2 linked regions of the Homo sapiens genome follow. The protein of the gene in region 1 binds, or shares a complex with, the protein of each later gene. Each region holds a gene or a part of one and is shown on either strand. Other genes may lie near its edges. The genes, in order: DTL and PCNA. A codon is read from its position in the direction of its gene.

Region 1 (4,057 bases):
TTTTGCCACACCACAGTAATACTTTTGACACCTATATCTATTCTTTTTAACATTCAGTGTAGTGTCACTTATCTTTTTAGGACTCATTTCATTGACTGACTTAATATTTAAATTAGATAATATCAGTCATCAGTGATTGATGGCAGAAATAGGTTTGTGAACCTTGAAAAACAAGATTCATTACAGTGGTGGAGGCAGAAGTAGCTGAGTGCATTGGGTGAGCTATGGGCACCAGTCAGAGAGAATAAAAAGCTTCTGTTGTTTGCATGTGAAGGGGAGATGGGTTAAGGAAGTTTCCACTGTACTTCACAGTAGCTCTTGTGGTGGCGGGATGATTGAAATAGAATCCAGAATCATGATCAGCATCATCTGCCATTTTAAAGGGCAGAAGCTAGATAACCAACCTTAGGCCAGTTTTAGTTTAAAAAGTGTTCATAACCCCGACCTGCTCTCATGAAGACCTATCCCATAATTTTAGAAAAATAAACTGATAGATTTTAAAGACAACTTAGTACACAAACTGCAATCAAGACCTTGCTGTAGAAAGTGGAGAAAAAAGACAGTTATAAGGAATCTTTCCTTCTCTCAAAATTATGACTGCTCTTTATCCCTAGCCAAAATTTCTATTTTTTTTTTCAAGGGAGCTGGTCTCAGCTATGTGTTAGCAGAAAAGTAGTTTCAATGAAAAACTATTTTCACTGATACATAAATCTTAAAATCTTTAAAAAGTAGAAACAGTGTGCTGGTCTTGTAATTTATTTGAAGCTAACATTTCTTAAAAATTTTTTACCTTTATATGATGATAATGTCAACCTTCAGAAGAGAGTAACATCTTCCATTTGAATACCTATCTTGTTTATAAATTGGGGGGGCTGATTTATTCATTTATTTCAAAAAGGATAGTAATTGTAACTTATTTGTTTCTTATTAGGAGACTTAGCTAGTAAATGTTTTCTATTCACATAAGAAGTCTATGCCTTCTTTCCCTACATATCATCTGTTAAGTTTTTACTATAGTCAGTACAAATCAGCCAAAAGAGACATTGCCATTGAAAGTATTTGGAGCTGAAAGCAGGCTAAACAATGAAATTTCTGGCAGCCTAATTTAAGGTATGCCTTAGTAATAACTTAGTAACAGTTGAACTTCAAGGAAATCTCTGAAATCTAAACTTTCTTCTTCTAGGTCACCATCACGCCCAGCTCCATGAGGAAAATCTGCACATACTTCCATAGAAAGTCCCAGGAGGACTTCTGTGGTCCTGAACACTCAACAGAATTATAGATTCTAATCTGAGTGAGTTACTGAGCTTTGGTCCACTAAAACAAGCTGAGCTTTGGTCCACTAAAACAAGATGAAAAATACAAGAGTGACTCTATAACTCTGGTCTTTAAGAAAGCTGCCTTTTCATTTTTAGACAAAATCTTTTCAACGCTGAAATGTACCTAATCTGGTTCTACTACCATAATGTATATGCAGCTTCCCGAGGATGAATGCTGTGTTTAAATTTCATAAAGTAAATTTGTCACTCTAGCATTTTGAATGAATAGTCTTCACTTTTTAAATTATTCATCTTCTCTATAATAATGACATCCCAGTTCATGGAGGCAAAAAACAAGTTTCTTGTTATCCTGAAACTTTCTATGCTCAGTGGAAAGTATCTGCCAGCCACAGCATGAGGCCTGTGAAGGCTGACTGAGAAATCCTCTGCTGAAGACCCCTGGTTCTGTTCTGCCTCCAACATGTATAATTTTATTTGAAATACATAATCTTTTCACTATGCTTTTGTGGGGTTTTTTTTAAGTATGTGTAAAAATGTGATGCTCAGATAAGTACATTTATATCAGTTCAGTGTTAAAATGCAGTCTCTTGAGTTAAAGTCATCTTTATTTTAAATGCAGTGATAAATGTCAACTCTTCGGAGAAACTAGGAGAACAACAACAGAAAGCTGTGTTTGTCTTTTTTCTCTCAAATATATCTCCCGTATGAGATTTCAGGTCCCCATGTTTTCACCAAGCAATCTGCTATGTCAGCCAACCCAACATCACTTTCTACAGGAGGTTATGATTTTTGCCATTTACTAGAGGAAGATGTTTTATGAAATCAATTTGGGGTTTGAATTCAGGTGCAGTCATCAGTTCTTTAGGGGCTGCAATGTTTTAAAAAAAATAAGTCATCAGATTTTAAGAAAAAAGTGATGATTTCTTATTGATATTTTTGTAACAGAATATAGCTCTTAACTGAAAATCCAGAACCAGAAACATAAATCTTGAGTTTCTTTTCATGTACATAAAAAGCAATAGCCTTTTAGTATAGATAGCCCTGAGCCAAAAAGTAATAGAATTTTCTCTAGATATTTAATACAGAGAGTGTATAGACTGACTCTAAGTTAATAATGTGCAAAATATCTTAAACATCCCTCCCCTTATTCAACAATTATGTATCAGTGATCTTGAACCATTGTTTTATATTTTTCACCTTTGTAACCTCATGGAAAGAGGCTTTACATACTTTCTATGTACTATTTACTTAGAAGGGAGCCCCCTTCCAGTCATGAAACTTCATTTGTTTTATCCATATCCCTGAGGACTGTGTAGACTTTATGTCAGTTTTTGTCATTATTTGAAAATCTATTCTGACAACTTTTTAATTCCTTTGATCTTATAAGTTAAAGCTGTAACAACTGAAATTGCATGGATCAAGTAAGCATAGTTTTATCCAGGGAGAAAAATAAAAGGAAGCCATAGAATTGCTCTGGTCAAAACCAAGCACACCATAGCCTTAACTGAATATTTAGGAAATCTGCCTAATCTGCTTATATTTGGTGTTTGTTTTTTGACTGTTGGGCTTTGGGAAGATGTTATTTATGACCAATATCTGCCAGTAACGCTGTTTATCTCACTTGCTTTGAAAGCCAATGGGGGAAAAAAATCCATGAAAAAAAAAAGATTGATAAAGTAGATGATTTTGTTTGTATCCCTACCCATCTCCTGGCAGCCCTACTGAGTGAAATTGGGATACATTTGGCTGTCAGAAATTATACCGAGTCTACTGGGTATAACATGTCTCACTTGGAAAGCTAGTACTTTTAAATGGGTGCCAAAGGTCAACTGTAATGAGATAATTATCCCTGCCTGTGTCCATGTCAGACTTTGAGCTGATCCTGAATAATAAAGCCTTTTACCTTATCTGATGTCCTTTTCTGAGCTTTTTGCATTACCTAGAAGCAGTCTACAAAAAAGAACTATAGTAGTCAAGAATCCCTTCTACTTGTTCATTAAAATGTTTATTCCCAAAGTTATAATCTATTTCAAGCTGAAAGAGCTTTTAATAAAAAACATCTTGCTTGGATCAGACTTTGAGCATTTAAGATGGCTTGGATTACTTGATAAAGCAGGGTGGAGTGATGTAGTTCTTTTTCTAAACAAGTATTTCCAGCACAAACTTTTCCATTTGAATACATTCCAAGCACTATTGCTAGGATCCCGTATTAGAGTTTGCTTTTGGCTGTTTCAACACGGGCCCTTAATTAAATTTTGTGAGGATGACTGATTAGTGTCTTCAAATGTCTCTTCATCTGGACTGCACATTTAACTGATGTTGGATCAAGACCATGTGTAGCTACTCTTGTGTTGAGGGTCAGCCCATTATCCCCATCCCCAGCCCTAACAGCTTAAAACAGCTTTAACTCCCATCTTGAAATTAGCCTATGGCCATGTTCATAACATAGGTAGTGTGTGGGTTCAACAAATGCTTTTTGAGAGCCTGTCATAGCCAACACACTACTGCTCTTAAGTCTGTTTTTCTGCTTTTCCTAGTCCCTAGTTCCTTTTACATTGCTCTTAAAGCAAAGGCCAAGTAGTCTAACAGAGAAAAATAAATTCCACAACTAAGATAGTGTGGGCAACATTTTACAAATGTGTGTCAGAAGACAGACTGAGTGAAAACATTGTACTAGAAAAACTGAGTTAATTTCCTCCCTATGGCAATTCAACACAAGTGGTTTCTGCTTCATAATTCCATAAAGGGCTAAATGTAGGCCCAGTTGAGCTCTTGCA
Region 2 (8,054 bases), on another chromosome or scaffold:
CCTGAAGTCAGTACTGTGTGACGAACAGGGGTCTGGTGGAAGTGATGCTAATAGGGCTTTAGGCCAGCTTTAGAGCCCTTCTCTCTCTCTCTTTTCGTTTTTTGTTTTCTTTTTGTTTGTTTTTTGTTTTTTTTTTTTAGACAGTTTCCCTCTTGTTGCTCAGGCTGGAGTGCAATGGTGTGATCTCGGCTCACTGCAACCTCCGCCTCCCAGGTTCAAGCAATTCTCCTGTCTCAGCCTCCCGAGTAGCTGGGACTACAGGCGCCCGCCACCACAGCTGGCTAATTTTTGTATTTTTAGTAGAGACAGGGGTTTTAGGTCAGGCTGGTTTTGAATTCTTGACCTCAGGTGATCCGCCCACCTGGGCCTCCCAAAGTGCTGGGATTACAGGCATCAGCCACTGCACCTGGCTCAAGAAACATTCTTAAGCATGCTTGATCTTGGTAAATGCCCCTGATTTCTTCTGTAGGAAAAAACCCTAGAGATCGAATTTCTGTGTCAAAGAATAAGTAAAATTCTAAGGCTTTTGATACACATTTCTAAGTTTCCACCAGAAAAATTATACCAATGTATACTCCCACTTGCAATGTATTTAAGTGCCTACTTCCTTGAATCCTTCCTAACACACCAGGTGTTAACATGATTTTTATTAATTTGGTAGGTTAAAATTCTGTCTCCATTGAATTTACATTTCTTTGCTTATTAATGTGGCTAACAAACTTCACGTTTATGAAGACTAGGACTGGACAGTGGAGGCCAGATACCTCTGGCTTTTTGTTTAGATGAATAAATTTTCTATTTCTCTTAATCCATTCAAGTTGAGTTCTCTGTCACTGAAACCTAAACTATACTAACCAATATAATCCTTTGAGGCATACTGAAGTCTTAAAACTTGTATGGTTATTCATTATGTTTTATGGGTTTTTTTCTTATGTTTGGAAGCCCATAGGAAGATCTCATAAATATTTACCAAAATATTTTTCCATTTCTTATTGGGTCAAGATTTGAATTTGAATTCTTTATCTAGAATTTAGTGAATAATTATTAGGAAAAGTCTTTTTTTTTTTTTTTGAGATGGAGGTTTGCTCTGTCACCCAGGCTGGAGTACAGTGGCGCAATCTTGGTTCACTGCAACCTCTGCCTCCCGGGTTCAAGCAATTCTCCTGCGTCAGCCTCCCTAGTATCTGGAATTACAGGTGTGCACCACCACGCCCAGCTAATTTTTGTATTTTTAGTAGAGACGGGGTTTCACCATGTTGGCCTGGCTGGTCTCGAACTCCTGACCTCAGATGATCCACCTACCTCAGCCTCCCAAAGTTCTGGGATTACAGGCATGAGCCACTGCGCCCATCCAGAAAAGTCTACAGCTTTTATTCTTTTCTAATAGTTTAACCAATTATCTGATCAAAATTTACTTCATTCTTTCTCCCACTGATCCAATAGTACCTTTACTAGATGTTAGAGTAGCCACTTAAAATGTAAATTGGATCACATCAAAGATCTGCTGTTGACCACATTCCCTTGCACTTTTAGAGAGCCTACAAAGTCCTGCAAGAGCTCACCCCAGCCTCTCTGCAACCTCACCTTGCACCACTCTTGCTTCAGACACATCAGTCTGAGTTCTACATCAAACTTGTCTGAATATATTCCAAGTATGCTGACCTTTATAATCATGCTATTCTCTCAGCCTAGAATGCTTTTTTCCAACTCTCCAAGCAGCTGTCTTCTCTGATAAGATGCTACCTCCTCAGAGAGGCCTTCTCTGACCACAGTCATAGGCATGTTTATGTCCTCATTTCAGTTTAACATAAAATTTACGTAACTGTACACCTCTTTATCATTTGACACTTTTAGGAGGACATCACTTCTGTAATAGAGCAGAAATAAACAGATTGATGTACATGGTGGATCCCCCATGGATAGAGTTTGTCATTTAAAATGTCTTCAAATCTATTACATGTAATTTGGCATTAAACCAAAATGTTATTATGTAAGCAGACAGAACTGAAACAGAGTAGTGGAGCATATGCATTTGTTTTTAGTGAAGCAAATGTTCCTCACTGGAGGAAGGAACACATTCCACATTTTGCAAAGGAACTGAGATTTTAACGGACCCAAGAAAGGAAAAGAACCACAAACAGATGATGCTGTATTATGTTTTGATATTGAGATGTATGCAAATGGGTAGTCCATCACACATAAAGCAAGAAAGTGCCAACATCAAAACTTACAAATGAGTAGCAGAGGCTTGCAAGAAATTCCAGAGACAATAGAATAGCACTATTGAAAAATACTGCATCATCAATACCCTTGACAACACAGAGTAGGATATTATACAGAAAAACAGCAGAATCAGCAACTAACTGAGTGGAGAAACAGTAGGAATGCCTTAACCAATGTAGCTTAAATTTTTTCATGTTTGCACAAGAGTAATATATAATAAGAATGTTTTTAAAGTCTAAAAGTTCTTTTAAAACAAAATAGACCCGGGCGCGGTGGCTCATGCCTGTAATCCCAGCACTTTGGGAGGCCAAGGCAGGCAGATCACATGAGGTCAGGAGTTCAAGACCAACCTGGCCAACATGGCAAAACCCCGTCTCTACTAAAAATACAAAAATTAGCCAGGTGTGATGGCGCATGCCTGTAATCCTAGCTATTCAGGAGGCTGAGGCATGAGAATTGCTTGAACCCAGGAGGCGGAGATTGCGGTTAGCCAAGATCACACCACTGCACTCCAGCCTGGGTGATAGAGTGAGACTCTGTCTCAGAAAAAAAAAAAAGAAAAAGAAAAAGAAAAAAAAAAAGAAATTCTAAGTGATAAAGCATTGTGTAACAGTTTGAGGCTGGGCACAGTGGCTCATGCCTGTAATCTCACACTTTGGGAGACCGATTGGGAAGATTGCTTGAGCCCAGGAGTTGGAGACCAGCCAGAGCGACATAGTGGGACCTTCTCTCTACAAAAACATTTAAAAATTAGCCAGGTACAGTGGTGCACCCCTGTAGTCCCAGCTATTTGGGAGGTGGCAAGAGGATCTCTCGAGCCTAGAAGTTGGAGGTGGCAGTGAGTAGTCATCTTGCCACTGCACTCCAGCCTGGGTGTCAAAGGGAGACTCCCCTCTCTAGAAAATAATAAAAAAAAAAGTTTGACAGTTTTCTTGCTTGTGCTACATAAAATAATGGTACATATTACAATTGAAGGCATCTTATAATAGAAATGCCCTTTCCTGTTCCCTTTTAAGGCTGACCCAGTGCTTTAAGAGGCTGATACAGAAGGGTAAAGTTAAGTCTCCACAAAATCCAGGGAAGAGACTGTGAAACTCATCTTAGAACCTTGTATGGAGTCACAGCTGAACTAGGAAAAAAAAAAAAAAAAAAAAAAGGAAAGAAAGGCATTCCAGAGATAAAGAATAGACTAAGGAGAGGAGATATTTGAAGCCATAATGATTGAGAATATGTCAGACTTGAAATGAATCTTCAGTTCCCTCAACAAGACAAATAAAACTAACTCCATACCTAGATACATGGTAGAAAAACTAAAGAATTCTGCTGACCAAGGTATTAAAAGTAACTAAAGAGAAGTGGTGTGAAGAAAGCAAGAGAGAAACAACAAATCCTGTCCATCCTGTAACAATTGAAAATTTCTGGCTGGGCGTGGTGGCTCACGCCTGTAATCCCAGCACTTTGAGAGGCCGAGGCAGGTGGATCACCTCAGGTCAGGTGTTCAAGACCAGCCTGGCCAACATGGTGAAACCCCGTCTCTACTAAAAAAAAATAATAATAATAATACAAAAATTAGCCGGGGGTGGTGGTAGGCACCTGTAATCCCAGATACTCGGGAGGCTGAGGCAGGAGACTCACTTGAACCTGGGAGGCGGAGGTTGCAATGAGCTGAGATCGCGCCACTGTACTCCAGCCTGGATGACAGAGCAGGACTCCATCTCAAAAAGAAAGGAAAAGAAAAGAAAAAATATTAAATGTGTACGCTCTTTGACTCAGCTGTATTACTTCAAGGAGTTGATATCACCAAAATTGCCTAAGTGCTCAAAGGTGTTTGTAGTTAAACAACAGGAGATTGATAAATTATGTTATATACATGTGATGCTATGTTTTAAAGAGGTACTGATATGATAAAAGATGTACGTGGCATAAAATTAAATGTACTTTATTAAGTACTTTTCCAAGTGTTTACGGAATGAGTGCATTTTTGAAAAAAAAAAAGTGTATTCGAACTTTTAAAAAAGCTTTAAAAGCTTTATACAATGAACGATTGAGTGATTATAAGAGCTGGCGGGGGAATGTTAAGAGGATGATAGGGAGCTAAGTTTAACAGAACAATTCACCTCTTTATCTTGTGACACCTACGAGCGCATCAATTCTGTAATTGAAAAATAAAGTGCATATTTGCAGCAGCTGTACTCTCTTCAGGCTGCAAGGAGGCTTTTCCTCCCGGTAGGCTTGATTTGCATTTCACTTTCACTTTCGTGGCTGGAAACTTTCTACCCACGTAGTGGGAGGCTGAGGAGCCACCATAAAGCTGGGGCTTGACGAGCCGGGACCGGGACCCGATCTCCACATATGCCCGGACTTGTTCTGCGGCCGGGTTCAGGAGTCAAAGAGGCGGGGAGACCTGCGCGACGCTGCCCCGCCCTGCGCCCGCTTCCTCCAATGTATGCTCTAGGGGGCGGGCCTCGCGGGGAGCATGGACACGATTGGCCCTAAAGTCTTCCCCGCAAGGCCGTGGGCTGGACAGCGTGGTGACGTCGCAACGCGGCGCAGGGTGAGAGCGCGCGCTTGCGGACGCGGCGGCATTAAACGGTTGCAGGCGTAGCAGAGTGGTCGTTGTCTTTCTAGGTCTCAGCCGGTCGTCGCGACGTTCGCCCGCTCGCTCTGAGGCTCCTGAAGCCGAAACCAGCTAGACTTTCCTCCTTCCCGCCTGCCTGTAGCGGCGTTGTTGCCACTCCGCCACCATGTTCGAGGCGCGCCTGGTCCAGGGCTCCATCCTCAAGAAGGTGTTGGAGGCACTCAAGGACCTCATCAACGAGGCCTGCTGGGATATTAGCTCCAGCGGTGTAAACCTGCAGAGCATGGACTCGTCCCACGTCTCTTTGGTGCAGCTCACCCTGCGGTCTGAGGGCTTCGACACCTACCGCTGCGACCGCAACCTGGCCATGGGCGTGAACCTCACCAGGTGAGCCTCGCGGCCCCGGGAAGCCGGCCCCGGCCCGCCTGCACCTCCGGTGCTTGGCGGGAGCGCTTTCGAGCCTAGCCCTCATTGGCTGGCGTGGGCCATCCGCGCCTTCTCATTGGCCTGCCACGCAGTGGGGTGGGGCCCAGCTGAGCGCGCGGTTCGGAAAAGCCCGCGCTGGCTGCTGCGCGAACCTGCTTTTTCGCGCCAAAGTCACAAAGCGGGTGGTGGCGGGAAAATCAAGGGTTTTTCCGCAGTGCCAGGAACACTGTTCCAGGGCTCTTTGCTCACTAAATCCTGTTGGCCTTGAATGGACGCTTTAGCTGTGGCTTTCTTGTTTCTGAGACGGTCTCGGTGTGTTGCCCGGGCTGGTCTCCAACTTCTGGGCTCAAGCGATCCTCCCGGCTCAGTCGCGGTTGACTTTAAATGCTTTATAATGCCCTTGCGAGAAATGTGGCAGCCTGTCATCCTACTTAGTGGCAGGAGATTGTTTCTATCCAGAAGGGACACTGCTGGTGGTATTTTAGTATAAATACTGCCAGATGCGTCCCAAAACGTCTGCATTAATAATGGCATCCTCCAGCAGTCCGCTTACCCTCCACCAGTTCTGAGACGGCCTGATGGGTGAGAGTGGTAACCCCTTCTAACCGCGTTCGAAATACAGCCCTTCAGCAGACGGCGTTGATTTTAAAGCATGTGTCTCCTGTCTTCTAGTATGTCCAAAATACTAAAATGCGCCGGCAATGAAGATATCATTACACTAAGGGCCGAAGATAACGCGGATACCTTGGCGCTAGTATTTGAAGCACCAAGTAAGTCGTACCTTTTTACCGAGTCACGAAGCTACAGAAAATCAAAACTCTGTGTCAGTATTTCTCAAAAGCATCTGCTTTCTTTTGGTAGACCAGGAGAAAGTTTCAGACTATGAAATGAAGTTGATGGATTTAGATGTTGAACAACTTGGAATTCCAGTGAGTATCAGTTTCTCATTGTAGAGAGTGCTGTACACAGGCACGATAGTTATGTCATAGAATGTTTGTTTATTTTTACAGACAGGGTCTTGGCTCTGTTGCCCAGGCTGGAGTGCAGTAGTGCCATATAGCTCTCTCTAACCTGGGATTCCTGGGCTCAAGCAGTCCTCTTGCCTTAGTCTCCTAAGTGGCTAGGAAGGACTACGGGCCTGTCCCACCACACCTGGCTAATTTTTTCATTTTTGTGTGTGGGCGTGGGGGCAGTCTTGCCCAGGCTGGTCTGGAACTCCTGGCCTCAAGTGATCCTCCTCCGTCAAGATATGTTAATATAATTTAAGCCTACTTCATAACAACTTTTTCTAGAAATATATCTACTGGTGCATGTTTCAAAGAGAGATTTTAGTATTTGGATAGTTGTTCACCACAAGTCTAAAACTCACAGGTTAAATTTATTGTTTACTGCCAGTTGTCTATTTGCATTAACTTCCATGAACCTCTTTTAAAATTTGTTTCCTTCTAGAATGCTTGCTTTTTATTAAGTGGATTTTAAAGCTGACTTGGAAGAAATTTATCCAGGTTAGGTTTATAAACACCAAAGGAGAGAAGAAATGTTTGAATGTTGAAAATGCCTAATATATTCTCTTGCTTTCTTTTAGAAAGTAGTTAGGCCTGCTTGCGCCATCATGATTTCTGTGCCATACTCTAATGTTCTCTTACTTTATCCCTGGAGGATGAGGAGGAGGAGGCTCTTGTTCCCTGGATGGTGCATTTAATAGCCATTTATTTTTTTGAGTGGAGTTTGTTAAGAAATTACGCAAGTCATATTTTAAAGTAATCAGAAAATATTGATTCTGAGTTGTTTAGGTGTTGCCTTTTAAGAAAGTGAGGGTGCCAAATCATTAAATTTCTAACAATTAACTTTTGGAAAATTTTTGTTCTTAATAGGAACAGGAGTACAGCTGTGTAGTAAAGATGCCTTCTGGTGAATTTGCACGTATATGCCGAGATCTCAGCCATATTGGAGATGCTGTTGTAATTTCCTGTGCAAAAGACGGAGTGAAATTTTCTGCAAGTGGAGAACTTGGAAATGGAAACATTAAATTGTCACAGACAAGTAATGTCGATAAAGAGGAGGAAGCTGTAAGTAGTTTTTAAGTAAAAAGAAAATAGTTTGAAGAGAATTATAATACTGCTTATTAGGTTAATTGCTAAAATTAAAAGTAGACAGAATTGGATCCCAAGTAATTTCTGAAAATTGAGATACTGTTGAAATCTGCGAATGATTTATAAGTGTCATCCAATTTAGAATTATATTTGCAAGAAGGGAATACAAATTCAGCACGTGTACATACCACAGAACAGTGGTTTATGGATCAAGTCCACACCGGCTCTTAAGGGTAGGATTGGGAAGTTAGGCGTATAACCTTTAGCTTTCTGGAGATACTTACTCTCTTACCAAATAATTGAGCATAGGACAGCAGCTCAATAGAAGGATATGGTTAGGAGTAAAAGTCTACCTGTTTGGAGCACTTATGTAATCCTAATATTAGCTTACATGTTGTGGGTCCAATTGGTAGCCCATTTTAAAGGTGGAGAAGCAGGCTGAGCAACCTTAAGTGACAATTTAGCCAAAGTCACAGGCTGTAGGAATCAAAGGTTAAACAGGAAGGAGACTTCTCACTAAGGCTAGAAAGCAGACTCCATGCAACTTTGAGAGTACCTAGAGAGCCCTTGTTTAACCAAAATAGAAAGAACATGGCAAAACCCCATCTCTACTAAAAATATAAAAATTAGCCGGGTGTGGTGGCGCACACCTGTAATCCCAGCTACTTGGAATGCTGAGATGGGAGAATGACTTGAACCGAGGAGGCGGAGGTTGCAGTGAGCCCAGATCATGC

Evidence for each region.
Region 2: the proteins of DTL (region 1) and PCNA are in contact, whole or in part, in a crystal structure (PDB 6QC0), measured with the Homo sapiens proteins. Residues at the interface, in NP_057532.4 of Homo sapiens: Ser705 (codon at 1,202), Met706 (codon at 1,205), Arg707 (codon at 1,208), Lys708 (codon at 1,211), Ile709 (codon at 1,214), Cys710 (codon at 1,217), Tyr712 (codon at 1,223), Phe713 (codon at 1,226), His714 (codon at 1,229), Arg715 (codon at 1,232); in NP_002583.1 of Homo sapiens: Met40, Ser43, His44, Val45, Ser46, Leu47, Glu124, Gln125, Leu126, Gly127, Ile128, Pro129, Ala208, Tyr211, Asp232, Val233, Pro234, Tyr250, Leu251, Ala252, Pro253, Lys254, Ile255, Glu256.

The regions. Positions count from the first base shown.
Region 1 is NC_000001.11:212,101,659-212,105,715, forward strand, and holds the end of DTL (denticleless protein homolog), read left to right. Parts: intron 1-1,183; coding exon 1,184-1,282; 3' UTR 1,283-3,355; downstream 3,356-4,057. UniProt on the Homo sapiens protein: Substrate-specific adapter of a DCX (DDB1-CUL4-X-box) E3 ubiquitin-protein ligase complex required for cell cycle control, DNA damage response and translesion DNA synthesis.
Region 2 is NC_000020.11:5,116,712-5,124,765, reverse strand, and holds the start of PCNA (proliferating cell nuclear antigen), read left to right. Parts: upstream 1-4,807; 5' UTR 4,808-4,967; coding exon 4,968-5,188; intron 5,189-5,899; coding exon 5,900-5,997; intron 5,998-6,088; coding exon 6,089-6,156; intron 6,157-7,101; coding exon 7,102-7,296; intron 7,297-8,054. UniProt on the Homo sapiens protein: Auxiliary protein of DNA polymerase delta and epsilon, is involved in the control of eukaryotic DNA replication by increasing the polymerase's processibility during elongation of the leading strand.